Homo sapiens: one gene and its partners. The protein of the gene in region 1 purifies or fractionates together with the protein of each later gene. This does not show direct contact. Each region holds a gene or a part of one and is shown on either strand. Other genes may lie near its edges.

Region 1 (4,071 bases):
TTAACATCCAGTATCACATTTAGTCCCCACAATAATTTTATGAGATAGGGGGATTTATCCTAATGTCACAGATGTAAAAGCATAACATCAGGAGTGCTTAAGTGATTTACCCAAGACACAGACCTAGTGAACAAGAAAAAAATAATCTACTTTTATGTACTTCAAAAGCTAATTTCCAACAAATGTTCATGGTAATTTACTTTGGAATAAGATGCAAATAATGTTTTTGCTATTTATTCTGCCTTTCTTTATATCATGCATAGGAATTCAACCTTATTGATAGAAGAGAACTTGCACCACTCCAAGAACTGATTGAAAAACTCACCTCAAAAGACAGATAAAAGGATGCAGAGCTGTGCAAATTGTTCCTCAAATGAAGCAGTGTGGAGTGTATTGGGGATTTTGTTATATTTTGTTTTTATCTGGATTGTTTTTGTCCTAGGTTTGGGGGCGGGGGCTTGTTTGGGTTCCTTTTTCTTTATTCTGATTATGTGAAACCATATTCTATTGCTAGGGGAAGCCAAGAACCATTCTCTATACACTTGATAAGGGTAAATTTATCTTAGTGTTTTTAAACTTGGTTTTGGTTACTTGAGGAGTTTTTTAATAATATTGTGTGCTGCAAGAAAGTGCTTGTTGATTGAACTGCCGATGGATTGGTTTCTGTGTGGTATAAATTGTGGCCCATTTATGAAGTCCCCAAAAGAGTTATGTTTTTAAGTGCCTTGGCAGGCTCACTTCTGAGGTGCAAAACATAGATATAGAACTGAACAGGGCTTGAAACAATATTAGGATTACTACCCAGGGCACTTACTGGTGCATGTTGTAACATATCTATGATAAAAGCCATAGTTTACCTAAAATGGTGATTTCCAGCCTTTACTGCTTTGAAGAAACAGAATTTGTAAAGGTATGCATGTAGAACATAAAAAATATTTCTTAATTATTTTTTATATTGATGGTAATATATTACGTTCAACAATGCTTAAAGCTCTACAAGCAGGTCTTTTCCCACCTCTTGATATCTGTGATACTGAAACTTGAGGATGTTGAAATGTATTACATTTTGGCTTCTTTCTACATGTTAACTGCACTGTAGATGTAAAAATTCAGGTTATATATAGGATTGCCATCTTCAGAGGTGATGCTGAACTGTGAGGTTTCCTAGTAATTGCCAAATGAGCCGTAAGTCTGCAGAATTCCCTTCTACTTTGAAGAGAAGGGGATAGGAATGTATATTTGGCTGGGGGCATGGAGATGTTCGTATGTATGAGGAGTTAGGGATGGGGAGTCAAGTTCTAGAAAGTTTTGTCTGAAAACCTTTGAATAGAATGGCATGAAGATTTTAATCAATTACTTATAAACAAAGTCTTAGAGACTTCCTTTTAGGAATCAACTTCCATGAGAAGTTAAAAATAAATTATTAATTTTAGGTACAGACATTAAACATGGAATTTAAGGACTGTTGGGGGAAATTGATCACTTCTTAGCATTTCCATTCAGTGAATGGAGCTGATGTTTGCCTGTCATTTTAAGATGATACCATACCTTCTTTGGTTATTATAGGTCCAGTTTGAAGCATTCTGACTTCTGGTTTTTCCACCCTGAAAGGAAATGTTTTTCTTTGCAGCAGTATTAGATAATGAAAAATGCTAATTCAGTAGTTATTAACTTCTAAATTTTATTCGCCATGACTTTCTAGTGAATTATTACCATAAATAACAATTTCAGAAACTTAGTTTTTAGAATAAATATTAATTTTTCCACTTCAGTTTTATTCTAGAAAATACCCTTTTTAGAAATCCAGTTTTAGTTTTGTCATTTTCGATAAATCTTTCTTCAGTTAGAAATATATATCCTTCCTTCAGTTGAAACATATACCTTTTTCACATCTAGGAAGAAATGCTTGCTCTGAAATAGTATAGATTAAAAACACTCAGTAGAAAAGAATCTAAAATTAAATGAATTTGTTTTGCCATTAAAGTAGAGCAGTGATACAATTTAATGCCATTACAATTATGTTGACTAGAAACTGCCTTTTTCTCCACTTCATTTCTAGCAATTATTTACCAAGTACCAACAGTAGAAGTAACAGGAAAGCCTGGCAGAGTTAAATATCTTGGACATTTATTGGTAAAGCTTATTTATAAACTGCAGTCAGAGCTAGTTAATTTCCTTAAATCTTTTTGTATTCAGATAGATAATATGAATCATTATGGGTTGATTCAGAAATAAAATTTGTGAGGTGATTTTGAATCTTGTCCATATAGGAAAATGAAGCACAGAATTACTCAGTCTTCCATATTGTATTTGACTTCATATCAATCTAGTAAAAAAGGAGTTGCAATAGCCAAGTATAGAGAGAATAGTGAAAAATTAATCTTGCCCTTTCAAGCCTTATACAGTAGTACACTGTACTTGTTTTTAGTAGTAAGACCTACTTTCCCACTATATGTAGATAGTTTGTTTTCACTGTGCCAGAATCTCAGGTGCCTGCTTAGAGTATTTCTTTAATCACAGTCACTGGGAAGTAAGGAGATGTATATATGTGTATATATGGTAACAAAGCATAGCAGTTCTCTAGGGGAGAGGCCTGGCATTGCACATGGTGTTACATGGCTACAAGTAAGGAAAAAATCAGAAAGTGAAAGAACTGATGTAATAAAAGGTTGATTTGGTTGGTTCCCATGAAAGTTAGTAAGATGCCCTTTTAAATATAAGGATCAGTGCTTTGTTCTGCAGCAGAGTTTGCTGATAAATGTCTGTTGGATTCTTTTTGGATTTCTTTAATTAATTTGTAAGTAACCAAGATAATTATTTTCCCCCTTGCTCTCTATATTAATACGTAGCTATAAAGCAACAGTTGGTTTTCTTATCCTTTGATAAAAGCATCCCATAAAATATAAAGTAGTAAGTTAACATAGTATTATTGTCACACACAATGCTTTTTTTGGTTAAATGTTGATACGAAGCAATGTTTTGGAATTACTTTAATTGATGGAGTAGTGGTGGTAGAGAGAAATTAATAACAAAAAGAGTGAAAATATTTTAATTAGCAGTAGATGGTGCTACTGGCTTTCATTTGCTGACTTGATTATTCCCTTTCTCTTAAAAACCATGGCATTAGACTGCACTAAATTAACAAGCATGTTAGTTGCTGGTAGAGGTTTTGGAGGTTAATTTACCTTAAATTGGAAGACTTTTAATTGCAGTCTCTTTCTACCTTCCCTCTGTTAGTCATTTGTAAATTCTAAATGGTCACCATAAAATGTATTAGGTAGGAGAAGATACGTTTTATGTATAATATATCTCAGACTGAGTTACTGCCTGTCTTATCAGGATGGATAAAACACTACAGTCTCTTATCAGGAAATAGAGATGATGTGGATATTTATATATTACATATATAACCACCAGACTCCATTTTATATATTAGCATTTTCCTTGCTTATGGGAAAATAGCAAAACAACATTTCATTTATACTTTTGTTTACCCCTCTCTGAGACAGGTTTTGATAACCACTGAAATGGTAGAATATGTGAGATACAAATATTGAGTTGTAGAACTTTCTTTTTAAGGTGAATAAGTCATGCCTTAACATCCAAATAAGAGTTCATCTTCAGAGTGGTTCTTTTGGGAGCACTGTTTATTCCAGCTATACTGCAAAAGTATAATGTTTTTGGAACTGTTCTAGAGCATACCATGAAAAGCAGTTTGTTATTATGCAGGAAAATCAGTTTCATCATTTTAGTTACACTAAACACTTTTGGCAGCTTAATATGACCTTTTTAAATTTTTTTTATTTTTTTTATTTTTATTTCTTTAAGATGGAGTCTTGCTCTGTTGCCCGGGCTGGAGTACAATGGCATGATCTCAGCTCACTGCAACCTCCACCTCCTGGGTTCAAGCATTTCTCCTGCCTCAGCCTCCCAAGTAGCTGGGATTACAGGCAGCACCACACCTGGCTAATTTTCATATTTTTAGTAGAGATGGGGTTTCAACATATTGGCCAGGCTGGTCTCAAACTCCTGACCTCAAGTGATCCGCCCTCCCCAGCCTCCCAAAGTGCT
Region 2 (4,421 bases), on another chromosome or scaffold:
AATAAAATCATCAAGGTAAAGACTGTTCTTTACTACAGGGGCAAAACTGAGAAATGTCTACATTTCAGGAGACAAAAGGGGATAAAGAACACAGAGAATGAGCAGAGCTGTGTCACAAAAGCCAGGTGAGAGGAGAATTTTAAGAAACAAGACTTTTAAGGAGAACAGTTAGATAAGGCCATAGGATTTGACTATTAGCAACTCACTTGTGACCACTGTCAACTAGTTCAACTAGGGTGTTTGAAGCAGATGCTAGGCTGCAAGTAGGTAAAGGAGATTTTACACCGTTTACAATTCTGTACCTTTTGAATTCTAAACTACATGAATGCATTACCTATTCAAAAAGTTTAACAATAAAGAAAATTTAAATTAAAAAGCCACACTATGGGCCGGGCATGGTGGCTCACGCCTATAATCCCAGCACTTCGAGAGGCCCAAGTGGGTGGATCACCTAAGGTTTGGAGTTTGAGACCAGCCTGGCCAACATGGCGAAGCCCCGTCTCTACTGAAAATACAAAAATTAGCCAGGTGTGGTGGTGGATGCCTGTAATCCCAGCTACCTGGGGGGCTGAGGCAGAGGAATTGCTTGAACCCAGGAGGCGGAGGTTGCAGTGAGCCGAGATCGCACCATTGCACTCCAGCCTGGGCGACAGAGTGAGACTCTGTCTAAACAAACAAACAAAAAGCCACACTATGAACTCATTTAGTCATTTCACTTCCTTTGGCACATAGCTAAATACATATTTCCTTGACTGATTGTATGGATGGAAGAAAGGAATGGTGGAAATGTACAGTAGGCAGGAAGCTCCCCCCAAAACAAAGGTTTAAGTTTGAGTAACGAAGGGTCAGAGATCATATAGTGATAGCAAAAACTCAGGTGAAATGGTTAGCCAGTAAGACCAGGTGAATAGGGTGTCAAGCACAAACAAGGGAAAGGGGTGAGACAGAGAAGACACCATCCCTATTTTACCAGATTTCAAGTTTACGTAGAATAACAGGGCCTTTTAATATGGCTCCAGTTGACCTGTTCAGACTCAGCTGTCATCGCTTCCTTCCTTCCTTCCTTTTCTTCCTCCCTAATGACTACACACTGGCACACACCCCCTCTCATACTCCAATGTCAGAGAACGATCTACAATTCTCTGTACGCTTCCTTTTCACTCATTCTCTTCTCCCTACTCAAATCATCCCATTCCACTCCAATCAGCCCATCCGCTTAGCAAGTTCTTACTCACCCTTCAAGACTCACTTGGCTTGCAAGGCATCTCCTCTTGAAGACCCTCCCTGACTTACCCAGGCAGATTTAAGCTCTCCTCCTCCTCTGCTTACAAAATCTGTTCCTTTCCCTTGTATCCTGTACTCACCTCCTTCAGAGCAATGACCCTACCAATTCCTAACTGCTTGTCACTAGATTCCAAAACTTCTGGGGACAAAAACTTTGTCTTTTCATCTCTATGTTTCCTGCCCCTGACACTGTACCTGACACAGTAGGTAAAGAGCCAATAGCTGGGTAGACGGACGAGTACACACATATCATTTTAATTAAAGCTTTTAAAATTACCTTTTTCCTAGGTCTCAATTTCTCTCTCCACTCCTTTAATTCTTGGCTATGTTCCTCATCTAACTCCTTCAGTTTCTGAGTCTCATGCTCAACCAACAAGTGGCATTTTTCATTCTGAAAATAAAGTTGGGATTTAAAAAAATTTCAGATCAACTAAGCAATTTTTCACAAATACAATTATCTTCCATAATAATAAATTACTCATCAAATATCATGCTATTACTGAGATTCAAGTTTTCCTCTATAAAAACCAAGGGCCATGAATTAGGAAATGAATCATAGCTTCATTTTTACAAGTTTAGAAGCTAGAACTATTACATACCATATAAAAAGAACTTAAAAAGAACTAGCTTGAGCTTTTGTTTTTCCTTTCTAAGAAGATTTGCTCATAAAACTGACACTTCAGAAGGCAGCCTGCATACATTTTACCCGTGAGTACAGAATGTGGGATCTGGTACTAAAGGGTTGGCCTAATAGATCTATTCCTGTAAAAGATCTATTGGCCCATTAGGCCAATCTATTAGGATCTGTTCTACTATAGTAAATTAAGCAAATATATAGATACCCACATTTATACACTACTCTGAAATCTTAAACATTTTAGATGGGCTGTACATTCTATGTAAGGTCCTAAATCAGCCCTCTCTCGAATAACTTTTAAATTTCCTAGGAGAAAAATTCCCATATATTTAACTTATCACTTATTTCAAAAACCTAGAAGAAAATAAACTATTTCCCTCTAAATGGAAAAGAAATTTTAAATTTAGAATCTGACAAAAAATTCAGAATATGACAACAAAACTGTCTACATCATTTTGAAACTCTCCACATCTTCTTGCAAAATATACTAAAAACCATACTCAATACTGCTTTTGAAAGACTCAATTTCGTAGGTTACAATTTAGCTTTATGTTTACATTAATCATGGTTATATATAATCTACACAAGTGCCTATGATACCAAACTGATCTTCATTTGGATCTGTACAAAAAACAGAACCTCTCAAACCCAGCATGTTCGTGTATGATGCAGTTGACTTTGGCTAGCTACTGTTCTCTCAAAAGCAGCCACTTGTGCTGCCGCATCCTATGGGCTTTGCTGTCAGGCTTCTGTATCTGACCTGCAGCTGATGCAGTTCGCGGACATTGGCTTCACACTGCAACTGAAGATCTCGCATTTGATTCTCATGTTTCTGATGCTGAGCCATTCTCTCATTTTTCTGCCTCTTTTCTTCTTGTGCAGCAAACTATAAATAAGAAAAAAAGATAAACTATAGTTCAGAAGCATGTGATTTCTATATATTCTGAAGATATAAAGGAATTTAACAAAACAAGGCACAATAAACTGAAGCTACAAGTAATAATATGCTGAGACTCAAACCTGGAGTCCACATCACAGCTTCAGAGAAGAGCAGGAACTTCTGATTAAAACCTTGATCCTCCTATCTGCTTAGTGATCTGAGTTAATTTGTGTGTGTGACCATGACTACAGAAGTATCACAGTGAGGCCATATATCTTGACTTGAAAAGTTGTCCGAGTCATCTCATTCCCAGGGCTGGTCTTAGGACCAGTCTAGCTCAGGAGCTGGTATGGGGTATAGGAGGAAGGGCTTTGCTCTCTGTGACCACCATCCTGGGGAAGACTAATTGGTATATGCCATGTATCTATAGTCCCAGCCCACAGAATTAAAGTGAACATCAACAAGCCTAAGGTGGCTCTAATTGTTTAGAAAGAAAGGAATTTTGTAGAACTTCTAATGGTCATTCAAAAATTTTAAACCTAAAAGAGAAGAGACTAACTTGCATATTTACCTGTTTAATTTTATCACGGTCCTGATCTGGTGTGGCTGTTGAGTTAATTCTCAAACTCTTCTTAAACATGGCCATTCGAGTCTTGGCTTCACTGCGCTGAATCTTGGGCAGTCTTGCTCTTTCTTGAGTCTGTCTGTTTTTCAATTCCTCAATAAGTCTTTGATTGTAACGCTGCATTTGCTCTGTTTCCTATGAAAGTTTTAAATAGAATCCAGTGACGCAGAAACAATAGTCAGTACCCACATGCATATTCAAATATGTCATTTTGTTATTGTTGTTTCCTATAATTACCCTCTCCCTTGTTGCAGTGACCAGCAAAATACTAGGCACAAAATAACTTGTAAGAAGTTAGGCTAGGTCTGGTGGCTGACACCTGTAATCCCAGCACTTTGGGAGGCTGACATAGGAGGATCACTTGAGCCTAGGAGTTTGAGACCAGCCTGTGAAACATAGTGAGACCCTGTCTCCACACACAAAATTTTTTTTTTTAATTAGCAGGGTGTGGTGGTGCATGAATGTACTTGGGAGGCTGAGGTAGGAGGATCCCTTGAACCCAGGAGTTCGAGGTTAAGTGAGCTATGACTGAGTGCCACTGCACTCCAGCCCAGGTGACAGAGCGAGACTCTGTCTCAAAAGAATAAAAAGAAAAGAAAGTTATTAGTGATGAGAGTTTTATACTGCAACTCTTAATAAGTACAAGGAGTCCATACTTTAAGATACTTGAACCACAAATAGAGCCAAAATAGCTACCTTTGAGAGCCGAGATGAAGATTACAAGGTGTAAAACGTCTTTAAGCATTGTAATTAGTTACTTTCCTTATAATTTGTAGAAAAGAAGTTTGCAATCATGATCAAGATACAATTAATTACTCCAAACTTCATCCAAGAAATTGTAGGATAAAAGACAGAAAGGAAATCTAAAATTCATTATCTAAGAAACTTAAGTTTCAAAACTAAATAGCTTTGCAAACTTTAAAACGAACAAAAAAATGAAGAAATTTTCCTTTCATTAACCTTCTCGTGGCGCTTAAGTAGCTGATGTCTTTGCA
Region 3 (4,421 bases), on another chromosome or scaffold:
CCCAGTCTCTAGAAAAAAATAAAAAATTAGCCAGGTGTGGTGTGCATGCAGGTGGTCCCAGCTACTTGGGAGACTGAGGCAGAAGGATCTAGAGGTCAGGCTGCATGATTGCACCACCACACACCAGCCTGGGCGACAGAGTGAGACCTTGTCTCAAAAAAACTAACTAAATAACATTCAAATATAAAAAAAAGAATAAAAAGGAATATCAGTGCCCTACATAATATTTTCAATCTTTGGTTTTCAATGAGGCTAAAAATCTTGTCCAGCATTTTTTTTGGACTCTGAAGAACTGATGAAAACAAAAATCACATGAGGTAATCTGAGTAAAAGACATGGTGCATGTTGTTCTTATCAATTCAGGATCTATGCTTAGAATAGCTGGTTGTCAGTGTGCTGCCCTTAGCACAGAATACAGGTATTCTAATATATAGTTAGGCTTCAGGAGAGAAAAGGTTAGCAGCATACCATGAGGCACCAATGTGGAATGACCTATCTGGGGGACACTCCAAGGACTCCACTCCTGTCGGCCATCTCCTCGGGCGCAGACTCTGAACTGGTAATCAACGTTGGGGTCTATGTGCAATACTATGAATTCAGTTTCAGAACCTACATATACATCCTCAAAATGATTTGAAGTACATTTACGAAACTGGAGCCTGTAATCTTGGGCTGTAAAGTCATCATCCACCTAGGGAGAAAAGCTTTATGTTAGGTAAAAAACAGAAAATGACTTCTCTCAGCATCACTGCTTAAAAATTTTGAACGGAGCCATTTTGGACCAAGCAGACAGGCCCACATGCTGAATATGGGGTATTCTTGGGAAGGCCATAGAAAATATGCCATCACATCATTATCTCCCTTCTTTTTTTTTTGAGAAAGGGTCTCACTTTGTCACCCAGGCTGTAGTGCAGTGGCGTGATCTCGGCTTATTGCAGCCTCCACACCCCGGGTTCAAGCCATCCTCTTCCTTCCACCCCACAAGTAGCTGGGATTTCAGGTGCACACCACCATGTCCGGCTAATTTTTTGTATTTTTTGTAGAGACTGGGCTTCACCATATCTCAGATCTTTAACTCCTGAGCTCAAGCAATCTTCTCGTCTCAGCCTCTCAAAGTGCTAGGACTATAGGCGTGAGACACTGCGCCTGGGCTCCCTTCTTTTCTTTATTGAACCATGTGTTCTGTATTTCCCAGTCTGATATAAAAAAGTCTGCCTCCTTTGAAGAAATGGCATGTTTTTTAATCAATGCCAAAGATAAAACATTCAAGATTCAGTAAGTCTCCCACAACCATACATCATTCATAATAACCAAGAGATAATTAACATACAGTATACAGAACCCCCATTAATTTTTAGGGGTCCTGCATATATTCTGTATGTTAATTAGCCACCCAATAGAAAAATGGGTAAAAGACATAAATAAGCGTTCTACAGGAGAAGAAACATAAATAGCCAAAAATGTATATTATGAATATTCAACCTAATTTGTACCTAATTTGTAATATGGCAAATACGATCTAAAACCACAACAAGGCCAGACATGATGGCTCATGCCTATAATCCTAACACTTTGAGAGGCCGAAGCGGGTGGAGCACTTGAGCCCAGGAATTTGAGGCCAGCCTAGGCAACACAGCAAAACCCCATCTCTACAAAAAATTACAAAACTTAGCTGGCTGTGGAAGCACATGCCTGAAGTCCCAATTACTTGGGGGCTGAGGCGGGAGGATCACTTGAGCCCAGGAGATTGAGACTGGAGACATGATTGTGCCACTGTACTCCAGCCTGGGTGACAGAGTGAGACCCTGTCTCAAAAACAAACAAATAAATAAAACCACAACAAGGTACATTTAGGCAAAAATATAAAGTCTCACAATGCCAATTATTGGTCAAGATATGGAATAACAGAAACTCATATACTCCTTGGAAGGCTAAATTGATAGAATCATCTTGTGGAAAGTTTGTTATTACCTATCAGCGTATGGATCCAATACTCTAAGAAGACCTCATAATTTTACACCTAGGTAAATATTAATATTTTACAAACTTCACATATGTCCATAAAGAAACACAAGTAAAAATACTTATAGCAAAAAACTGGAAATAACTAGGTCCACTGATAGGAAAAATAATAAAAATGGAATGACAGTCCTGTTAGAAAATAACAACAGCATGTTTATAAAAAAAGAAAAAAAAATTTCCTTTTAATAAAATCTCAGCTGGGCACAGTGGCTCACACCTGTAATCCCAGCACTTTGGGAGGCCGAGGTGGGCAGATCACCTGAGGTCGGGAGTTTGAGACCAACCTGACCAACATGGAGAAACTCTGTCTCTACTAAAAATACAAAAATACTAAAAATACAAACTTAGCCAGGTGTGGTGGCGCATGCCTTAATCCCAGCTACTTGGGAGGCTGAGGCAGGAGGATTGCTTGAACCCGGGAGACGGAGGTTGTGGTGAGCCAAGATCGTGCCATTGTATTCCAGCCTGAACAACAACAACGAAACTCTGTCTCAAAAAAAAAAAAAAAGAAAATGTCAGCCAGGCGGAGTGGCTCACACCTGTAATCCCAGCACTTTGGGAGGCCAAGGTGGGCAGATCACCTGAGGTCGGAGGTTGCATCGCTGCACTCCAGCCTGGGCGACACAGCAAGGCTTCATTTAAAAAAAAAAGGCCAGGCACGGCGGCTCACACCTATAATCCCAGCACTTTGGGTGGCCGAGGCGAGTGGGTCACCTGAGGTCAGGAGTTCAAGAACAGCCTGGCCAACATGGTGAAACCTCGTCTCTACAAAAAATACAAAAATTAGGCAGGTGTGATGGCAGGTGCCTATAATCCCAGCTACTCAGGAGGCCGAAGCAGGAGAATGGCTTGAACCCGGGGGAAGCGGCAGGCGGGGGAGGGCATGGAGGTTGCAGTAAGCCGAGATCACGCCACTTCACTCCAGCCTCGGTGAAAGAGCAAAACTCTGTCTCAAAAAATAAATAAATAAAATAAAAATAAAACTGGAAGAGCTACCTCAGTGTTCCATGTGACTTCATTTTAACTGTAAAGTAAAAGAGATTTTTGTTTGAGAAGAAAAGAATGTATTTAAAAGTAGTCAACGAAAAAATCTGAAAGGCCTCCAAATCGCAAACCCATAATGTGGAAGTCATTTCTAGAATTCTGAATTACATACCTTACACCATCGTACAATGATGCCTCCAGGTTTCTCTATTAGTTCTTCTATCTGTACTGGTGGGCGAGATGCTACTGTTCCATGCTTAAAAATGTGGTCTTTCACTATGTTAAGAATTGAGTCATCCAACTGAGCAGATAAACAAGGCACATCAACCAGTAAAGGTACTTCTGGTAAGCTGAGGAAACAAAGCTCATGTGTTATGAGACCTCTAACTGAGAGTTAAAAAATACAAGAAATATTTTAGAGCAGTCACATGCTTGAAAGATCCTGAAGCCCCCAGTAATTAATTCTCATGGCAGTAGGGGATTTGCAAGATGTTACACAAAGATTCTCTTTTCAAATAAATATAAGTAAGACAGAAAATTGGTAGGATCATAACTGTCCAGTTTAAGCCAAAAGATCTGGTTTACTGGAATATGACTCCATTTCAACAATACATTGATAATTTCTAAAATTTAACAATTCTTTTATATATTGGATTGAAAAAATGTGTAGTAATACTATACCAAGGATTATAATCACAACTATTTCATTAGTAACAGTGGTAATGGGCAGTGAAACGCTTTTTTTTTTTTTTTTCAGACAGAGTCTCACTCTGTCCCCTAGGCTGGAGTGCTGTGGTGCGATCTCAGCTCACTGCAACCTCCACCTCCCCGATTCAAGCGACTCTCTTGCCTCAGCCTCTCGAGTAGCTGGGACTTACAGGCGCACGCCACCATGCCCGGATAATTTTTTATTTTATTTTATACTTATTTTGAGATGGAGTCTTGCTGTTGCCCAGGCTGGAGTGTAGTGGTACAAACTTGGCTCACTGCAACATCTGCCTCCTGGGTTCAAGCAATTCTCCTGTCTCAGCCTCCCCAAGTAGCTGGATTACAGGTCCATGCCCGTCTAATTTTTATATTTTTAGTAGAGACAGGGTTTCAACATGTTGGCCAGGCTGGTCTCAAACTCCTGGCCTCAAGCAATCCACCCGCCTTGGCCTCCCAACGTGCTGGGATTACAGGTGTAAACCACCACGCATGGTCTGAAAACCTTGAAATATATATTCTCTATCTCCCTTAATGAGAATCTTGAACAGAGGGAGGAAAAAAGCAGACATAGTTTAAATGCTTAAAAGTAAGTCAAAAAGGCACAAACTCTTTTACCTGTCCAACTGAATGTGCGAGGCCTTTTTGGTAAAGCTCCACAGTTTCTCATTCTCTTCTCCCACACCACCAAGCATGGCGATTTCACCTAC
Region 4 (4,421 bases), on another chromosome or scaffold:
TAATCATTTAGTCATAGTGACATAGGACATATACTTGGTTATGGATCTTGGGAGAAACCTCAACATTGACGAAGATAATTTACAAATTTGAAACTGGAATCTAGAGGCACTGGCCACAAAGAGCTGGAGGGAGGTGTCATTTCTCTCCTGGGAGAAAGCTGAGTTGGTTCTTCTCCCATGCCTGCCCCCACCTTCACTCCACGTTCCATACAAGCCAGCTGAAAGCTGGGTAGATACACCTGAGATAGGGATGGAGGGTTGTGGGCTCCAACACTAGTTACTGTGAATAGCTATAAGAAAAGACCATGTACACACATATGGTTTTAGGACAGAGAGTGCACACAGCCTCAAGTAATGAGTGAAGAGATTTTTTAAGAGCTCAGAAACATCAACAGCTTGGTGTACTGACAGTCAGCAGAAGCAACATGTGGCCACTAAGAAAGACTTGTTCAAGATTAGACTGCTTCTTGCTAATTTTCAGAAAAGACTGTATTTGCTGAGCACTTCATGTGAAAAATGTAAAATGAACATCATTTCAATGATTTCAGAAAGCGGTTTTGAAAACAAGGGATAATAATTTGGAGGACTACTTTTGCAATTCATTTTTGAATAATAAAGTATATCTAAATTCAGAAGCCAATAAGCAGAATATACAAGGTAACACTTTCAAAAATATTAAGTTATATGCTACATCTAAGATCTACCGCTTAGCTCTTAAATCAGCTCTTTAGAGTTTAAAAAGGGTTGCTCATAATCTCAGCCTTCCTATGTTTAAACACTAAAAACAGTTTGGCTGGATCCTTGTGTAATACTACTTTGACATTTTTATCTACCAAAAAAATATGGCACTAAAGAAGGCTTGTGTCTTATTTGTCTCATCACTTGTTTGCAATGATAAAATGTAACAGCACTTGGTATTATAAAAATTAGGATTATCTTTGTATCACAGCTTAAAAGGCAGGAGTTCATAGGGCACAGACATAACTATTTTAGAGAGAAACATCCATTTTCCAACTATTATTGCTTTATAGTACTATTTGGCAGAAGAAAAAATATTTCTCTCTCAACAATATGCTTTATTTCTCCAGTTACTATTAAGTCGGACATGGGTTCAAATTCCCATTCTGCTATACTGATTCTGCAGACGGTTAATTTTTGTGAATTTTAGTAGAAATGTTAACCTGTCAATTTTATAAAACTGTTGTACAAGTTAAATTGAGTAATACAAAATGGCTTATGCCTATGTCTGTCTCAAAAGTAAAGTTCTACAATTAACACCAATTTTAATACTCTTAATAAAAAATTAATATTTGTAGAAAATAATTTTCTTATAAAGAAGAATCAAAGTTTTCCTCTAAAATGTGGTATCATTAATATTTCAGATTAACCTATTTGGGTTCTACAACATGGCATTAAGTTCTAGTAAATCTTAGGGAAAGGCATTTATTATTTTGGTCACGAAAATCTAGAAACACAAATGAAAGCTTTTGGGCAAAAGCAGGAGGTCACTGAAAGTCATTTAGAATTTTTAGAGTGTCCTGAATTTGGAGTGGGGAAAGACTGTGAAGATCATTAATGTAACCCTACACATTTACCCCCCCAAAAAAAAAGAAGAGTGAGGGCTGAAGTTAACAGGATTCACTCAACTTGTATAGCCAATAAGGCTAAGAAGATATGAAAATCTAGGTCTTTCAACTTAGAGTCCAACTGTTCTTCACATTCTATGTACCACTCTGCTTTTAAAACATTTTGATTGCATTTCACCCTTTTATGGTTTACAGTGCTTCTTCCACATCCAGGTGACTTATTTTTCCAAAATTTTGCTATTTCAACAGTTTTTAGGCAACTAATAACCGTCCAGTTAGGTTCCTATCCAAACAACTATTTTCCCTTTCTTCCTTCCTATGAAAATCCTGATTTACTCCTGAATATGGCAATATATTCAATAAAGTCCACTGAAGCCCTATTCCTGCTCCAGGGGATGAACCAGGTGATGAACCAAGACTGATCTAGCAAAAAGCGAACCCCATTCTGCTTTGCTGGTGAATTAGTTTAGAGTAGTCTTGTAACCAATGGAACCTTAGGAAGGAATTTTGTGGGGACTTTCGAAGAGAGGTTTTCTCCTTTTTTTAAAAAAAAAAGAAAAGAAAAGAAAAGAAAATGTACAGGAGAGTCTCTTTTCCAATGTCTTTGGTTGTCTCCCATAAGTACATGATACAGCAGTCATCTCTTTATTATGAGAAAGCCAAGAGTTTCACAGAGAAGCTCACCCAGAGCTCTGACATTGCTGTTTTAAACAACCCCAAATTACCATGCTCTAGATTAAATTATTACACAAGCAAAAAACCTCTATTTATTCAGGTAGTCAATTATTATATCTGTGGCCAAAATCTGCCAAATATAAAACTCTAGTATTTGCTAGTGAAACTATGTTACATGACTTCTAGAAGACTTCATGTCATACCAAATAATATGAATATATAATTTTTTAAAATTAAAGTTTGTTAAAAATCTATTAGGGAAACAAAAAGTTGACTTAAAAAAATACAATTGACAAATCTTTAGCCAGACTAAGAAAAAAAGAGAAGAAGATCCAAATAAAATCAGAAATGAAAAAGGAGACATTACAACTTACACAGAAATTACGACTTACACAGACATTATGACTTATGCAGAAATCCAAAGGCTTGTTAGTGGTTACTGTAAGCAACTATATATGCTGATAAACTGGAAAATATAGAAGAAATGGACACATTCCTAGACATATACAACCTACCAAGATTGAAACAAGAGGAAATCCAAAACCAGAACAGACCAGTAACAAGTAATGAGATCAAAGCTGTAATAAAAAGTCTTCTAGTAATGAAAAGGCCAGGACATAATGGCTTCACTGCTGAATTCTACCAAACATTTAAAGAAGAACTAATACCAATCCTACTCAAAATATTCTAAAAAATAGAGGAGGGAATACTTCCAAATTCATTCAAGGCCAGTATTACCCTGATACCAAAACCAGACAAAGACACATCAAAAAAAGAAAACTACAGGCCAGTATCGCTGATGAGTATTAATGCAGAAATCCTCAACAAAATACTAGCACAACTGAATTCAACAATATATTAGAAAGATCATTCATCATGATCAAGTGGGATTTATCTGTGGGATGCAAGGATGGTTCAAAACACAAAATCAATTAACATGATATATCATATCAAAAAAATAAAGAATAACCATATGATCATTTCAACTGATGTTGAAAAAACATTTGATTAAAAAATTCAATATCCCTTCATGATAAAAACCCTCAAAAAACTGGATATGGAAGGAACATATCTCAACATAATAAAAGCCATATATGACAGACCCACAGCTAGTATCATGCTGAATGAGGAAAAACTGAAAATCTTTCCTCTAAGACCTGCAACACAAGGATGCCCACTGTCACCACTGTTATTTAACATAGTACTGGAAGTCCTATCTAGCTCAATCAGACAAGAGAAAGATATCAAAGGCATACAAATTGGGAAGGAAGAAGTCAAATTATACCTGTTTGTTGGTGATATAATCTTATATTTGGAAAAACCTAAACATTCCACAAGAAAACTAGAACTGATAAATTCAGTAAAGTTCCAGAATACAAAATCAATGTACAAACATCACTAGCATTTCTATATGCCAACAGTGAACAATGTGAAAAAGAAACTAAAAAGTAATCCTGTTTACAATAGCCATACATAAAATTAAATACTTAGGAATTAACCAAAGAAGTAAAAGATCTCTATAATGGAAACAATAAAACACGAATGAAGAAAATTGAAGAGGACACCAAAAAATGGAAAAATATTCCATGTTCATGGATTGGGATGAATCAACACTGTTAAAATGTCCTGGCAATCTATAGATTCAATGCAATCCCAATCAAAATACCAATGGAATTCTTCACAGGAATAGAAAAAATACTAAAATTTATATGGAACCAGAAAAGACCCAGAATAGCCAAAGCCACCCTAAGCAAAAAGAACAAAACTGGTGGAATCCCATTATCTAACTTCAAATTATGCTACAGACCTATCGTAACCAAAACAGCATGGTACTGTCACAAAAACAGACACGTGTACCAATAGAACAGAACAGAGAACCCAAAACCAAATCCAAACACCTACAGCAAACTCATTTTTGACAAAGGTGCCAAGAACATACACTGGGAAAAGACAAGTCTCTTTAATAAATGGTGCTGGGAAACTGGATAAACACATGCAAAATCATGAAACCAGACCCCTATCTCTTGCCATATACAAAATTCAAATCAAAATGCATTAAATACTTCAAACTGAATCTAATACAAGAAAACACTGGGGAAAATCTCCAGGACATTAGTCTGAGCAAATATTTCTTGAGCAATAGCCCACAAGCACAGGCAA
Region 5 (4,421 bases), on another chromosome or scaffold:
TCTCTTTTAGTTCTTCAGTAAGATCCAGAGAGCCAGGTGTTACCTACAGGCAACTGAGTCACTCTTCTGCACACCCTCAAGTACACAAGTGAAAGAAAACAAAGGCCCATCTCTAAGGTGACCCACAGCTTCAAACTGCTTCAGGCTGTTGTGCAAGGAAACAAGGAAAGTTCTTTCGGGATCCCCCTAGACAGAGGGAATGGTATTCACCAGGCCTCCAGAAAACGGGACTCACCAGGAGAGCAGGGCACAAAGGATATCTGAGCCCTGGCCAGATGAGGAGGCAGCAAGAAGACTGGAGGTTGGGAAGGACACAGAGAAGCCAAGACGGAGTCAGACATATAACCAGAGATGTCAACTGGGCCACAAACAGCATCTCCAAAGAGCTCCATTTGGAAGAATGTATCTGAGGTCTACCAATACTAGCCCCTTGCCACAAACAAACAAACAAAATGCCAATTTCCCACATGAAGCCAAATCAAAACCCTAGTAGCAGTGCTTATTAAACGATTTAAAAAAAAAAAATCAAACCTCACAAAGTAAGGCTGACTCCCAAGAGTCATCTAGCTTTCCTGGAGACACAGAGACACATAACAAGAATGCTGGGAAATGATCAACTACAAAGGACCATGAGAGAAATTTTGGGGGTGACAGAAATGTCTTGATTGTGGTGATGGTGACTTCAGGCATCAGTCAGAATTCCTAGGAATGTACACCTAAAATGAGCTTTACCATATGAGAATTATATCTCAATAAACCTGTCTTAAAAACAAACACAGAAGCATGCCTTCAGAGTGTTTCCCAAACACGCCCTTATGCCACCATGCTTCAGAATCTACGGGGTGACATAAAGGCTTCCAGGGCACTAGAGAGGAATGCTGTTACAGACAACACCTGTAAGAAAACGTTTTGTGTAACAAAGCTACTTACATGTATCAACTAATACTTCACATAACCTTGCCAATCAGCTAACAAACATTTTCTAAAAAGAAAACACTGAGCAATTTTTTTCCTCTAGGTCCCTGTACAAAGCAACTCTTCTCTACAATGAAAATATGTACGTGATACCTTCTGTTCTGAGCATAAGGTGACCAGGACAAATACACTAAGTCACATCATCAAGGACTTAACTTTAACCTTATAACTCTTAGAACAGTAGCCATTCAAAAAGGACCAGGAAGTTTCAAAGGCAGCACAGAGGTGGGGAACACTCCGAACTCACTTGTTTTGCCCCAAAAACAAGAGGACCTAACAAGAAATTATTAGTATTATAAAAACAACTGTTACAATGAAATAATCTGGGGAAAAGTTTAAATTGTAAAATGGCCAGTATCATGTAATTATTTCCATTTTTTTCTGACTAGGGCAAGGAGGTATTATTTTCCTCATATTACCAACCAAACTGAATTCCTTTCAAAAAAACAATTTACTTACTGTTTCTTCTCATTCATTTCCCAGGCTTCAAGTATTCGTTCTATTAATTGACATTTTTGGAAAAGCTGAAAAAAAAAAAAAGAATATTCCAGTTAATACTTCAAAGCATCAAAACTTTAAAGTGAAACAGAACTCTAGGTTAAAGAGAATAGTAGTATGCATAATCTAGCAAGCTAAATGTTACTAAGCCAAATGCAATGTGATCATCAATCTACTGCAGACACCCACAACACTACAGAGATTCAAATCAGGATCCACACCCTCCACAGAACATCTACAGGAAACTCAGTATTATAGGTAGTGCAGTTAACTACCTATAGTTAACTATAAAGGAAAGCCAGGTTTTATTAGCTGTGAAAATTCAGAACAGAAATATAAAACCTGAGCTAAATTAAAATGGAATAAAGAAAACTATGCCTTGGCAAAAATTTAACTTAGAATCCAAAGTAATGCTTGTACTTTTAAAATGTGAGCACGTCTTACTTCCAGATGAACTAACATTACTGCATTAATATTAAAAACAGGTGGGTTTTGCCCAAAGTCTGCAAGTCAGTGACAACTGCTGTAGGCTGCAATACTGGAATGTGCAGGGCTAGTTCTTCTCAGGTGTCATTTGTCTTTCCCATCAACTTGGCTGTTCCAAGCTAGCCTTTTCTACATTTTAGGTTTGCGAGTAAACCAAGTGTGGGCTAGAAATTTTAAAAGTACCATAGAACTACCAAGCAAGAAAAAATCTGAAGACTGACTTAGTAAAATTATCTCATATTTGACAGAAGAGAAAAAGAGACCCCAGGAAGACTCTCAACATCACAAAGAACTCAGTTCTCCTGACTTTCAGTCACGTATTCAGCAAAGAAACTACACTCTGGTCAGCCAAATAATAGTGCAAATGTTTTCCATAGTATTTAAATTTCTATGATTCTTCAAATCATCAAAGAATTTATATATCTTCAAACCTATTAATTTTACCAAATAAGGAGGCCACTTAGCTTTTTTCTTACAAGACTGTTCATTTAATAGTTATTTGTCCAGTACTTGATTTATATAATGATTTATATGTTAAAAGTGAAACGAACACATGATTGTCAAATATTTAGACTCTGAAATCTAACCTCAAGCCCTTTAAACCTCAATTCACATCACAGTCAAGTGGAAAACTGCTATAACCAGGAGAGAGTGGGAGAAAAACGAGACCAAATAAGCTTACATGTTTTAATAACAAATTATCACCAGTGGAGTCTTGATCGGTAATTGTGGCATTTTCTGTGTTTTCAAAAGGACTTGCAAGAATCAGTGCAATACAAATTTCCACTTGTGTATGCAAAAAGTTATTCCATGTATACTTGAAGAACATGTTCTACAAAAAAGAAAAACCATGTTTTATTCGGTTACCTCAATGTTTAAGCCAATACTTAAATACATTTACAGAACAGTGATTTAATAAAGTAAAAATGATGTGCTCTCAGTCCAAAAGGACCAATTAAAAGGAACCTGAGTTCACATTAGTACTTGCATAACCACAGTTTCATTTTCTGTGGTTTCAGTTACCCACAGTCAACCATGATCTGAAAATAGGTGAGTATAATACAGTAAGACATGCTAATCCAAGAGATGACATTCACATAACATTCATTACAGTATAGATTTATAATTGTTCTACTTTATTATTAGTTATTATTAATCTCTTCCTGTGCTTAATTTATAAATTAAACTTTGTCACAGGTATGTATAGGAAAAACACATAGTATATATAGGGTTCGATAGCTGTGGTTTCAGGCATCCAAAGGAGTCTTGGAAGGTATCCCTCATAAATAACGAGGACTAAATGGGGATGTGAAGTATTGCTTTAGAGCCTAAATGGCGTGCTATCTGCTTATCTGACATGCCAGAACTGGTATGGAATCTAGTAAAAAACCAACAACAAACATACAAAGACAAGAGTACGTTTCTCCAAGAGAAAGGGAGTATCTTTTTTCTCTTCAAAGCAACTAACACAAATAGTTAGCGTGGTAAATTTTCTATAATTTTCAAAAAAATTTATAAGAGGCCAGGCGTGGTGGCTCATGCCTGTAATCTCTGCACTCTGGGAGGCCGAGGCGGGCGGATCACGAGGTCAGGAGATCAAGACCATCCTAACACGGTGAAACCCCGTCTCTACTAAAAATACAAAAAAATCGCTGGGTGTGGTGGCGGGCGCCTGTGGCCCCAGCTACTCAGGAGGCTGAGGCAGGAGAATGGCGTGAACCCAGGAGGCGGAGCTTGCAGTGAGCCAAGATCACTGCACTCCAGCCTGGGCGACTGAGCCAGACTCCATCTCAAAAAAAAAAAAAAATTGTAAGAATTTCATTTTGATGCAACAAATATTTACTGATGGTTTTTGTGCAGGGTATTGTATGAGATGCAACATGGCAGACAGAGATACACAAAAATACGGTCCACAGTCTTGAGGTGCTCATGACTCAACTCCAGCATACAAAAACTAGAGCTATCAGCAAAAACAAATGAGGATACGAGAGGCAGTAACGTGAATCTCCTGGAAGTACAAGGGTTTTCAAATTACTTGAAAAGGTAATAGCATTACAAAAGGGAAAGAATTTCTAAAAGTACAAAATGCCATATTTTGGAAGTCAATTTAGTATGTCATATTTAGGAAATGGTTGGGTCTGGTTATCTAATCTCAAAATGAAGAAGTAATGAGTAACTCCTCCAGTAGTCTCATCAAATTTAGTCTCATCAGAAGTAGTCCTAAAGATTAACAGAATAAATTAACAATAACTGTATATTGTTATTAGTAAAATTAAAGACCAGTGATCAATGACTTAGGAACGTTATATTCCCGGAGTTTTATACACTAGAAGGTAGGACAAAAACTACGTCCCCAGAAGGCAATGACCATGCTAGCTATCAAAGAAACTGTAATTCTTTAAATCTTCATCTCTTTTTCCAAATTGCTCCTGTTTTCTGTGCTCTATACTGATTTAACCCAA
Region 6 (4,421 bases), on another chromosome or scaffold:
TGGGATGATTGTTTAAGCTCAGGAGTTCTAGACCAACCTGGGCAACATAGTGAGACCCCATCTCTAAAAAAAAAAAAAAATTGAATTTTTAAAAATTAAATTACTTGGCCGGGCGCAGTGGCTCACGCCTGTAATCCCAGCACTTTGGGAGGCCGAGGCAGGTGGATCACCTGAGGTCAGGAGTTTGAGACCAGCCTGACCAACATGGAGAAACCCCGTCTCTACTAAAAAAAAAAAAAAAATACAAAATTAGCCGGGCTTGGTGGTGCATGCCTGTAATCCCAGCTACTCAGGAAGCTGAGGTGGGAGAATCACTTGAATCCAGGAAGGGGAGGTTGCAGTGAGCCAAGATCACGCCATTGCACTCCAGCCTGGGCAACAAGAGTGAAACTCCATCTAAAAAAAAAAAAAAAAAAAACTTAAAAAATACTGGTTAGCAGATGACCAAATCAACTAATGTAGGTAATAGAGGATTGAAAAAATGGTGGTTTTGCCAGGTGTGGTGGCTCACATCTATAATCCCAGCACTTTGGGAGGCCAACGTGGGTGGATCACAAGGTCAGGAGTTTGAGACCAGCCTGACCAACCTGGTGAAACCCCCGTCTCTACAAAAAATACAAAAATCAGCCGGGTGTGGTGGCGGCTTGTACCTGTAATCCCAGCTACTCAGGAGTCTGAGGCAAGAGAATCGCTTGAACCCGGGAGGCGGAGGTTGCAGTGAACCGAGATTGTGCCACTGCACTCCAGCCTGGGTGACAGAGTGATACTGTCTCAAAAAAAGAAAAAAAAGAAAAAAAAATGGTGGTTTTTTTTTTCAGGGAAAGTTTTTGAGAGAATGGCACAGCAGATTCTTGTAGATTTCCCTGGAATCAAAAATCTTGTTTGTATAAACATTTAATAGAAAAAATTTGTTTACGTGTATTTTATTTTTTTGTTAAAATCAAATTTCCAAATAATTCAGTATGTAACTCTTTATTGTAGTTATAAACTATATGTTTGTACAGTTTGATATAATTTGAAAAGAATATTGTGGCTATTGTATTGTTTGTAACTGTAAACTTTTACTTCACAGGGTGATTTTGTAGACAGAGGTTACTATAGTTTGGAGACCTTCACTTACCTTCTTGCATTAAAGGCTAAATGGCCTGATCGTATTACACTTTTGCGAGGAAATCATGAGAGTAGACAGATAACACAGGTCTATGGATTTTATGGTAAGAATTCCTATTTCTCTGATTCTGAATATTATTTTACTTTCCTCTTTGGAAAACAAAGCTACACAAGTCATACACATGCTTTATGTATATTATTTTCCCCACATCCTCACTCCTTCACTCCTCCCAAACAATTGAAAATCTTATGCTCGAGAGAAGACCACTGTTAACTTTTTGGTGTGCATCTTTCTAGATCTGTGCCTCAAAGTGTAGCTGGAATCACCTGGGTTCTCATTAAAAATGTAGATTGCCGGCCGGGTGGGGTGGCTCACACCTGTAATCTCAGCACTTTGGGAGGCTGAGGCAGGCGGATCACAAGATCAGGAGATCGAGACCATCCTGACCAATATGGTGAAACCCCTTCTCTTCTAAAAATACAAAAATGAGCTGAGCGTGGTGGTGTGTGCATGTAATCCCAGTTACTCGGGAGGCTGAGGCAGGAGAATTGCTTGAACCAAGGAGTCAGAGTTTGTGGTGAGCCGAGATCATGCCACAGCACTCCAGCCTGGCGACATAGGGAGACTCCGTCTCAAAAAAAAAAAAACCAAAAAAAAAAGGAGAATGCTGGGCCTCACCACAGATTTATTAATCAAAATATTTTGGAGTGGGAATCTAGAATCTGCTGAAGGTGAATGTTCTGCACAAATTTGAGAGTCCATTCTCATCCATTTTGTATGTGTGTGTGTGTGTTTATGTGTGTTTATATATGTACAAACACGTGCACACTAAAATGGGGACATACCTGATTTTTTCACTTTATTAATGTTATTTTCATGGCTGCTTCATATACCATATGGATGTAGCATAATTGATGTATCAGTTTTTCCTCTATCGTTGGACTTTAGAGTTGTTTTTAAGCTGCTGTTATACATCCTTTTACATATATCTCTGTATGCTCACTCCAGAGAATGCTAGGACCTCAGGGATCAGAAGCAGAACTTAGTCATAAACAGCAAAATAGGCCAGGCGCAGTGGCTCACCCCTGTAATCCCAGCACTTTGGGAGGCCGAGGCGGGCGGATCACCTGAGGTCAGGAGTTCGAGACCAGCCTGGCCAACTAAACCCTGTCTCTACTAAAAATACAAAAATTAGCCGGGCACTGGTAGGGGGAGGGGGGAGGGATAGCGTTAGGAGACATACCTAATGTAAATGACGAGTTAATGGGTGCAGCACACCAACATGACACATGTATACATATGTAAAAGACCGACACGTTGTGCACATGTACCCTAGAACTTAAAGTTTAATAATAAAAAAAATTTAGCCGGGCATGGTGGTGGGGGCCTGTAATCCCAGCTACTCAGGAGACTGAGGCAGGGAGAATTGATTGAACCCAGGAGGTGGAGGTTGCAGTGAGCCAAGATCGCTCCATTCCACTCCAGCCTGGGCAACTGAGCCAGACTCTGTCTCAAGAAAGGAAAAAAAGCAAACTAGCTAATTCTTTAAAACTTTTATTTGGTTGAAAGAGAGAGAGAGAGAGAGAGAGAGAGAGAGAGCGAGCTTATTAGGAAGCCCCTTCAGGGAAATAGAACTGTCAAGATTATGAATTTGGATTTTCCTTGAGCACAATTAAGACAGATATTGAGAGATTTGGAAACATTAATTGCAGAACCCTTTAGATTTAAATTTTATATTTTGAATTATCTTCTTTCATTATAAAGATAGGCTGGGCCAGGTGTGGTGGCTCATGCCTGTAATCCCAGTACTTTGGGAGGCTGAGGCAGGCAGATCACAAGGTCAGGAGATCGAGACCATCTTGGCCAACATGGTGAAACCCCGTCTCTACTTAAAATACAAAAATTAGCTGGGCATGGTGGCACTTGCCTGTAGTCCCAGCTATTCGGGAGGCTGAGGCAGGAGAATCCCTTGAACCCGGGAGGTGGAGGTTGCAGTGAGCCGAGATTGCACCATTGCACTCCAGCCTGGATGACAGTGAGGCTGTCTCAAAACGAAACAAAGCAAAGATAATCTGAACTCTCTTACTCTTCAGTTTGTCTGCCATTATCAATTAGAGAAATTTTGAGAATTTATTGTTTTTATATAATTTTTTTAATACGTGTAAAGTTAGGTAATATTTATCTCCTTTCTACAGGTGACTTTTTATTTTCATTCACAAAATAAACACCAATTGAAATACAACTTTTGGATTCTTTTGCAAAATAATCAATATTTTGGATAACATACTATGATATTAGCTCAGTGAAAACAGTACTAAAACTAATGTTATAAAAACACACACACCTACTATATATATGTAACTAATGCTACATGTATAATATATAAAATACATATTGTTATATATGGCTAATATATGACTTTTTTTTTTTTTTTTTTTTGAGACGGAGTCTCGCTCTGTCACCCAGGCTGGAGTGCAGTGGTGCGATCTTCGCTCACTGCAAGCTCTGCCTACTGGGTTCACGCCATTCTCCTGCCTCCGCCTCCCAAGTAGCTGGGACTACAGGCGCCCGCCACCATGCCCGGCTAATTTTTTTGTATTTTTTAGTAGAGACAGGGTTTCACCGTGTTAGCCAGGATGGTCTCAATCTCCTGACCTTGTGATCCGCCCGCCTCGGCCTCCCAAAGTGCTGGGATTACAGGCATGAGGCACTGCGTCCAGCCATATGACATATGTTTTGAATAAGATAATTTTAGTTATTATAGGACTTATATTGATTTTCAAGGAATAAAATATCCCTATATGACTTTACACTGGGACTTCAGTTCACACTGATAAACACATACTGGGCAGTTACTATTGAGCCAAGTTCAAGATCCCTGCCTGCAACCTGAGCTCATTGTTAGGGCTCTCTTATGGCAAGTTTACATAACAATCTTGCTTCACGTAGATATATAATTGAGAAAATCTTGGGGATTGGTCATAACCTGCAGACTTCTTTCCTATATCATTTTCAGCTTCACTTAAGGCAATAGTGATATGTCAGGTTTTTTTTTTTCTAAAATTATGGAAGAAGCCAAAGTACAGAGCTTCCATGGTGTTAACAAAAGAAGTGTGTACCCTATTAACTATGTAGACAGTCAGGGTACAGTGGCTCACATCTGTATTCTCAGCACTGTGGGAGGCTGAGGTAGGAGGATTGCTTGAGCTCAGGAGTTCAAGACCAGCCTGGACAACATAGGGAGATCCCCATCTCTACCAGAAATAAAATTAGCCAGGTGTGGTGGCACTTGCCTGTAGTTCCAGCTGTT
Region 7 (4,421 bases), on another chromosome or scaffold:
GGCTGGAAGAAGGCAGCATTTATCTGCTTGAGAACACATAGAACACCCAAGCATCCCAGTCATCTCCCTGCCCCGTCTCTCCTCACTCACCCCTGAGCCCCCAGGTTACAGCCAGAGTGCCAGGAGGAGGAGGATGGAGGGGGTCGAATGCGTTCGTTGTCATCCTGCATCTGCAGGCGAATGGGCCGGCGCAGGCCCCAGGAGATGTTCAGGAGCCCCTCCACAATGAACTCGTCTTCTTCCTGCCCACAAAGCAATCAGAGTAGTGAGCCTAGAAAAGCCCCCACAGAAGCCAAGACCATGCTGAGGGACAAATGACACATTCTTCACATGTCCTGGCTGGGGGCCCCCAGACTGTATTCACAGGATAGGGGCAGCTGCCCAGTTCACACCGCAGCTCTGAGATACTTTCTGACGTCAACTACTCCAGATCCTGAAGCTGACCTCACAGGTCAGCACAAAAGTTGCTGTGAAATTCAAATACATAGGTATAAATTATAAAAAGCATTGTTTTTCTTTTTATCCTAATGACTTTTAAAGAAAGCGGAATACATTTCTTAAAATAAGTGAGATTAGCCTTGTTAACAGAAGCAAGAACTGGAGTTAGCTACGTCCCATCCCCTACTACGGAAAATGATGTCTCTTTAGCTACAACATCTGTTTAGCAATCCAACCTGGTGGTTGAAGGAAATTTAAAGCAACATTTGCCGAAGTTTATTCTACAGAACACTAGCTCCTCTAGCAGATGAACTGCTGTCTTTAAAAGGGTGTCAAGTGATCATGAGCTGGGAGAGGCTGTGCTAATCAGATTTCCAAACAGCAGAATGTCCCAGGTTCTGTAATAAACTAACGGGCTAAATGACAACTCTCCAACAGGTGAATAAATCTTGCAGGAGTCCCCAATTTATACTCAAAGGTTGCTGACTAATTAGACATTAAATGTAAAACCATTCTAGAGGCATTTATATGTTCTATCCCGAAGAATTGGGACTCGCTTATGACTATGAAATCCTTTAATCATGAAGCACTTTTAATCATTTATTCTATAGGACATAACCCAGGAAAGCTATTTAAGAACTAAAATCTTGCATGGCCCAGCTGCTGATTAGTAAAAGCTTGAAGGGCAGTTCCTAAAAGAATCGGTTCTCCTCCCTCTAGTCTCAGAAAAACCTTTTTGGAGCCATGTTTTATGGGCTATTCAAGTGTTAGATCTGGGTCATGGAACACATCTTCAGGACAAGCCCCATAGGTGAAAATAACATCAGCCCATTGAGCAACTAACTAACTTGGGCCCCAAAATCATCCTCAAAGAGGGAGGAAGGAATAAAAGAGGGAAGGAGAGAAATGAAACAATTTTACGGTGCTTAGGCGTCTCAGGGAGGAAGGCTTTATGTAAACATAGGCAATTTACATGGCCTTCCCCTGGTCAAGGTGGGCATCATTCCTTTACACAATTGTAGGTCAAAATTTAACCCAAAACAGGATTTTGTCTAAGTGGAGTGGTTTGAGGGACACAGAATAGGCCACTACATCCCACATACTGTCCCCAAGCAACCTGCCCTAGCAGCTGAAATTCCACCATCTGTTATCTGTTTCTATGGTTAAATCGCCACAGCTTGATAACCTGAAAATGTGTTTCAAAGGGCATTACACATAGGGACCTTTTTATCAGTCACAGGCGCTTGAGTATAAAGTACCCTACCAGACTCCTTTATAACTCATCATCTATCTGATAACAGGCTTTAGAGAAATGGATACAGGATGAGTAAGCTCAGTTTCAGGATGGGAATCAGATGAGTAACAAAAGCAACCTAGGATGACCAAGTGTGGGGACGGGCCCACTATCAGTGGGGACTCTGCTAACATCCAGAGCTTATGTGCTTTGCCCAGGTCACTGCAGTGATAGGACTTGGGCCCAAATGTTTAAACACAGAGGACTGGGTGGGGTTCCCGAATTGCCCAACGAGAGAACGTCTGCTTGGGAGCCACCTGGAAAGGTCATTTCATGAAAGCTCCCTCTGGAGAATCTCCCCCATGAGACTGGGCTAGCCCTGCCACATTTCTACAGGAATGTCTCTGGAACACATCTCTGAAACATTCATCCTTTTTGGAACAAAACTGGGCCTGGAGTCTTCTTCCAAAGAACCCCAAGGACTCTCACTAGCAACCTAAATAAGAAGCAGGAGAGGCAGGGTTCTCTTGGGACCTCAGGGACCTTCAGACCCAGGACACATGGTGACAAGCCCTGGACTAGCCAATCAGGGCCGTCCCTGGGGACTCCTTACCTCCCGGTGCCGGAGCTGTAAATTCTGGCCTTCATAGTACAAGTTGTAGGTCTTCAGATGCAAGAGAAGTTCATTTCTTAGGGGGAAAAATAGAAGAGATATAACATTATCAGCTGAAGCCACTTATAATGCAGTTGTTCCCTCTTTCTCTCACCTCTCACCTGGCCTTCAGTCACCCCACTTTGGGTAACTGTCCACATGTACATACACACACATGCACATGCACACAGAGTTCTGCCACCACCACCCCATAACCATCTTCCCCCAGGATCAAAGTCAAGAGTGAGCACCACCCCAGAACAATGCTTAAAGTAAGGAGCAACTCCAGGACACCAAGGCAGGCCTCGTCTACCGACAATACTCCCAAACTCAAGCTGAATGAGCAGGTGTTAATAAGCCATGGATTCACTGAGGCGAGCACTTCAGAGCCCACACACAGCGATTCTCCTGCATGGCTGTGGCCTTTTCTCCCTCAAGCACGCTGTGAGTGAGGAAAGGACAATAATGATAGGCCTTCACAAGACTCAGAAGCTGGCTGCGCGCAGTGGCTCATGCCTGTAATCCCAGTACTTTGGGAGGCCAAGACCAGCGGATCACTTAAGGTCAGGAGTTTGAGACCAGCCTGGCCAACATGGTGAAACCCCATCTCTAACAAAAATACAAAAAATTAGCCAGGCGTGGTGGTGCACACCTGTATTCCCAGCTACTCAGGAGGCTGAGGCAGGAGAATCACCCAAACCTCAGAGGCAGAGGTTGCAGTGAGCTGAGATCGCGCCACTGCACTCCAGCCTGGGCAAAAGACTGAGACTCCATCTCAAAAAAACAAACAAACAAACAAAAAAAAAAAAACTTGCAAACTCCCATCAGCATCAGAATGGGTGCATAAAGGAAGCAATAGCCACACAACGGAAAATTATCAGCGAAGAGAATGTGAATGAACTACACAACTACACGCATGTGTGTGACTCATGGGAATTATAGGATATGTGCTTTTCTTGTGTCTAGCTTCTTTCACAAAAAAGCACAGATCATATTCCATTGACAGAAAGTTCAAAATGGAGTGTTAGAATTCAGGATAGTGGTTCACCTTGGGGAGTAGTGACAAGAAGTGGGCATGAGGTGGCTTCTGGGCCCTGGCAATACTTTTTCAGTTCTAAAAATTAAAAAATAAAAACCCTTAGAAACTCCCCCTCTGAAGCCCAGCACTGGACCTCCTTAGCCACCAAGTTTTCCAAGTGGCTGCACTGGGAGTACAGCTCTACTGCACGTGGCCAGAGAGGAGATTTCACCCCCTTTGTGATCAGGGAAATCCCTCATCAACCCTGAGAATGCACAAGTCAAGTTTCATCTGAAAGTGCATGTTTTGCACTCCAGGTGGGATGAGAGGGGCGAGAGGTGGAGGGGGCCACTGTGCGCTTTTGTCTAGTCTCAAGTAAGAGGTGGCAGAGTTCAGCCTCTCTGAACCCAGCCATTCAGTGGAGAGATTTTGGACCACGCCAGGAGTCAAGACCCACTGGAAATGCCAAGAAAATCCTGACAAGTTAAACCTAGATAAAGCAGCATGATTCTATGCAAGCTGAAATAAATTTGTGGAAAATGTGATTCGAAATCACCTAAGACAAAAGGCCGTTTGGTACTTTTGAACACACAGATCTGAAACCGGGAGAGAAAATCATTGGTTGGTAGAAGTCCCTGGGGAAATCTGTCCACAAAGAGATAAGAATGGTCAGATGTCACAAAACATGTGTCAAGTGTGCCTAAGGACTTCCAACAATTTAGTCCCAGATAAATTAAATATTTCGTTAAGATAGAGAAATCCCAGCTGGGTGTGGTGGCTCACGCCTGTAATCCCAGCACTTTGGGAGGCCAAGGCGGGTGGATCACCTGAGGTCAGGTGTTCAAGACCAGCCCGACCAACATGGTGAAAGCCCACCTCTACTAAAAATTAAAAAATTAGCTGGGTGTGGTGGCGCATGCCTGTAATCCCAGCTACCTGGGAGGTTGAGGCAGGAGAATCACTTGAACCCAGGAGGCAGAGGTTGCCATGAACTGAGATCACGCCACTGCACTCCAGCCTAGGTGACAGAGGGAGAGTCCTTCTAAAAAAAAAAAAAAGAGATAGAGAAATCTTATGCT

What was found.
Region 2: the proteins of MOB1B (region 1) and SLK purify together in Homo sapiens (affinity purification with mass spectrometry; one large-scale study listed by BioGRID and IntAct). This does not show direct contact.
Region 3: the proteins of MOB1B (region 1) and CRLF3 purify together in Homo sapiens (affinity purification with mass spectrometry; one large-scale study listed by BioGRID and IntAct). This does not show direct contact.
Region 4: the proteins of MOB1B (region 1) and ANKRD28 purify together in Homo sapiens (affinity purification with mass spectrometry; one large-scale study listed by BioGRID and IntAct). This does not show direct contact.
Region 5: the proteins of MOB1B (region 1) and PPP6R3 purify together in Homo sapiens (affinity purification with western blotting; one study listed by BioGRID and IntAct). This does not show direct contact.
Region 6: the proteins of MOB1B (region 1) and PPP6C purify together in Homo sapiens (affinity purification with western blotting; one study listed by BioGRID and IntAct). This does not show direct contact.
Region 7: the proteins of MOB1B (region 1) and RASSF2 purify together in Homo sapiens (affinity purification with mass spectrometry; one large-scale study listed by BioGRID and IntAct). This does not show direct contact.

What each region holds. Positions count from the first base shown.
Region 1 is NC_000004.12:70,981,717-70,985,787, forward strand, and holds part of MOB1B (MOB kinase activator 1B), read left to right. Parts: intron 1-263; coding exon 264-341; 3' UTR 342-4,071. UniProt on the Homo sapiens protein: Activator of LATS1/2 in the Hippo signaling pathway which plays a pivotal role in organ size control and tumor suppression by restricting proliferation and promoting apoptosis.
Region 2 is NC_000010.11:104,018,874-104,023,294, reverse strand, and holds part of SLK (STE20-like serine/threonine-protein kinase), read right to left. Parts: coding exon 4,387-4,421; intron 3,562-4,386; coding exon 3,373-3,561; intron 2,808-3,372; coding exon 2,682-2,807; intron 1,676-2,681; coding exon 1,562-1,675; intron 1-1,561. UniProt on the Homo sapiens protein: Mediates apoptosis and actin stress fiber dissolution.
Region 3 is NC_000017.11:30,792,982-30,797,402, forward strand, and holds part of CRLF3 (cytokine receptor-like factor 3), read right to left. Parts: intron 4,418-4,421; coding exon 4,330-4,417; intron 3,357-4,329; coding exon 3,179-3,356; intron 692-3,178; coding exon 469-691; intron 1-468. UniProt on the Homo sapiens protein: May play a role in the negative regulation of cell cycle progression.
Region 4 is NC_000003.12:15,787,307-15,791,727, forward strand, and holds part of ANKRD28 (serine/threonine-protein phosphatase 6 regulatory ankyrin repeat subunit A), read right to left. Parts: intron 1-4,421. UniProt on the Homo sapiens protein: Regulatory subunit of protein phosphatase 6 (PP6) that may be involved in the recognition of phosphoprotein substrates. Involved in the PP6-mediated dephosphorylation of NFKBIE opposing its degradation in response to TNF-alpha.
Region 5 is NC_000011.10:68,568,118-68,572,538, reverse strand, and holds part of PPP6R3 (serine/threonine-protein phosphatase 6 regulatory subunit 3), read right to left. Parts: intron 2,792-4,421; coding exon 2,642-2,791; intron 1,500-2,641; coding exon 1,435-1,499; intron 1-1,434.
Region 6 is NC_000009.12:125,155,034-125,159,454, reverse strand, and holds part of PPP6C (serine/threonine-protein phosphatase 6 catalytic subunit), read left to right. Parts: intron 1-1,072; coding exon 1,073-1,214; intron 1,215-4,421.
Region 7 is NC_000020.11:4,795,725-4,800,145, forward strand, and holds part of RASSF2 (ras association domain-containing protein 2), read right to left. Parts: intron 2,362-4,421; coding exon 2,286-2,361; intron 243-2,285; coding exon 91-242; intron 1-90. UniProt on the Homo sapiens protein: Potential tumor suppressor. Acts as a KRAS-specific effector protein. May promote apoptosis and cell cycle arrest. Stabilizes STK3/MST2 by protecting it from proteasomal degradation.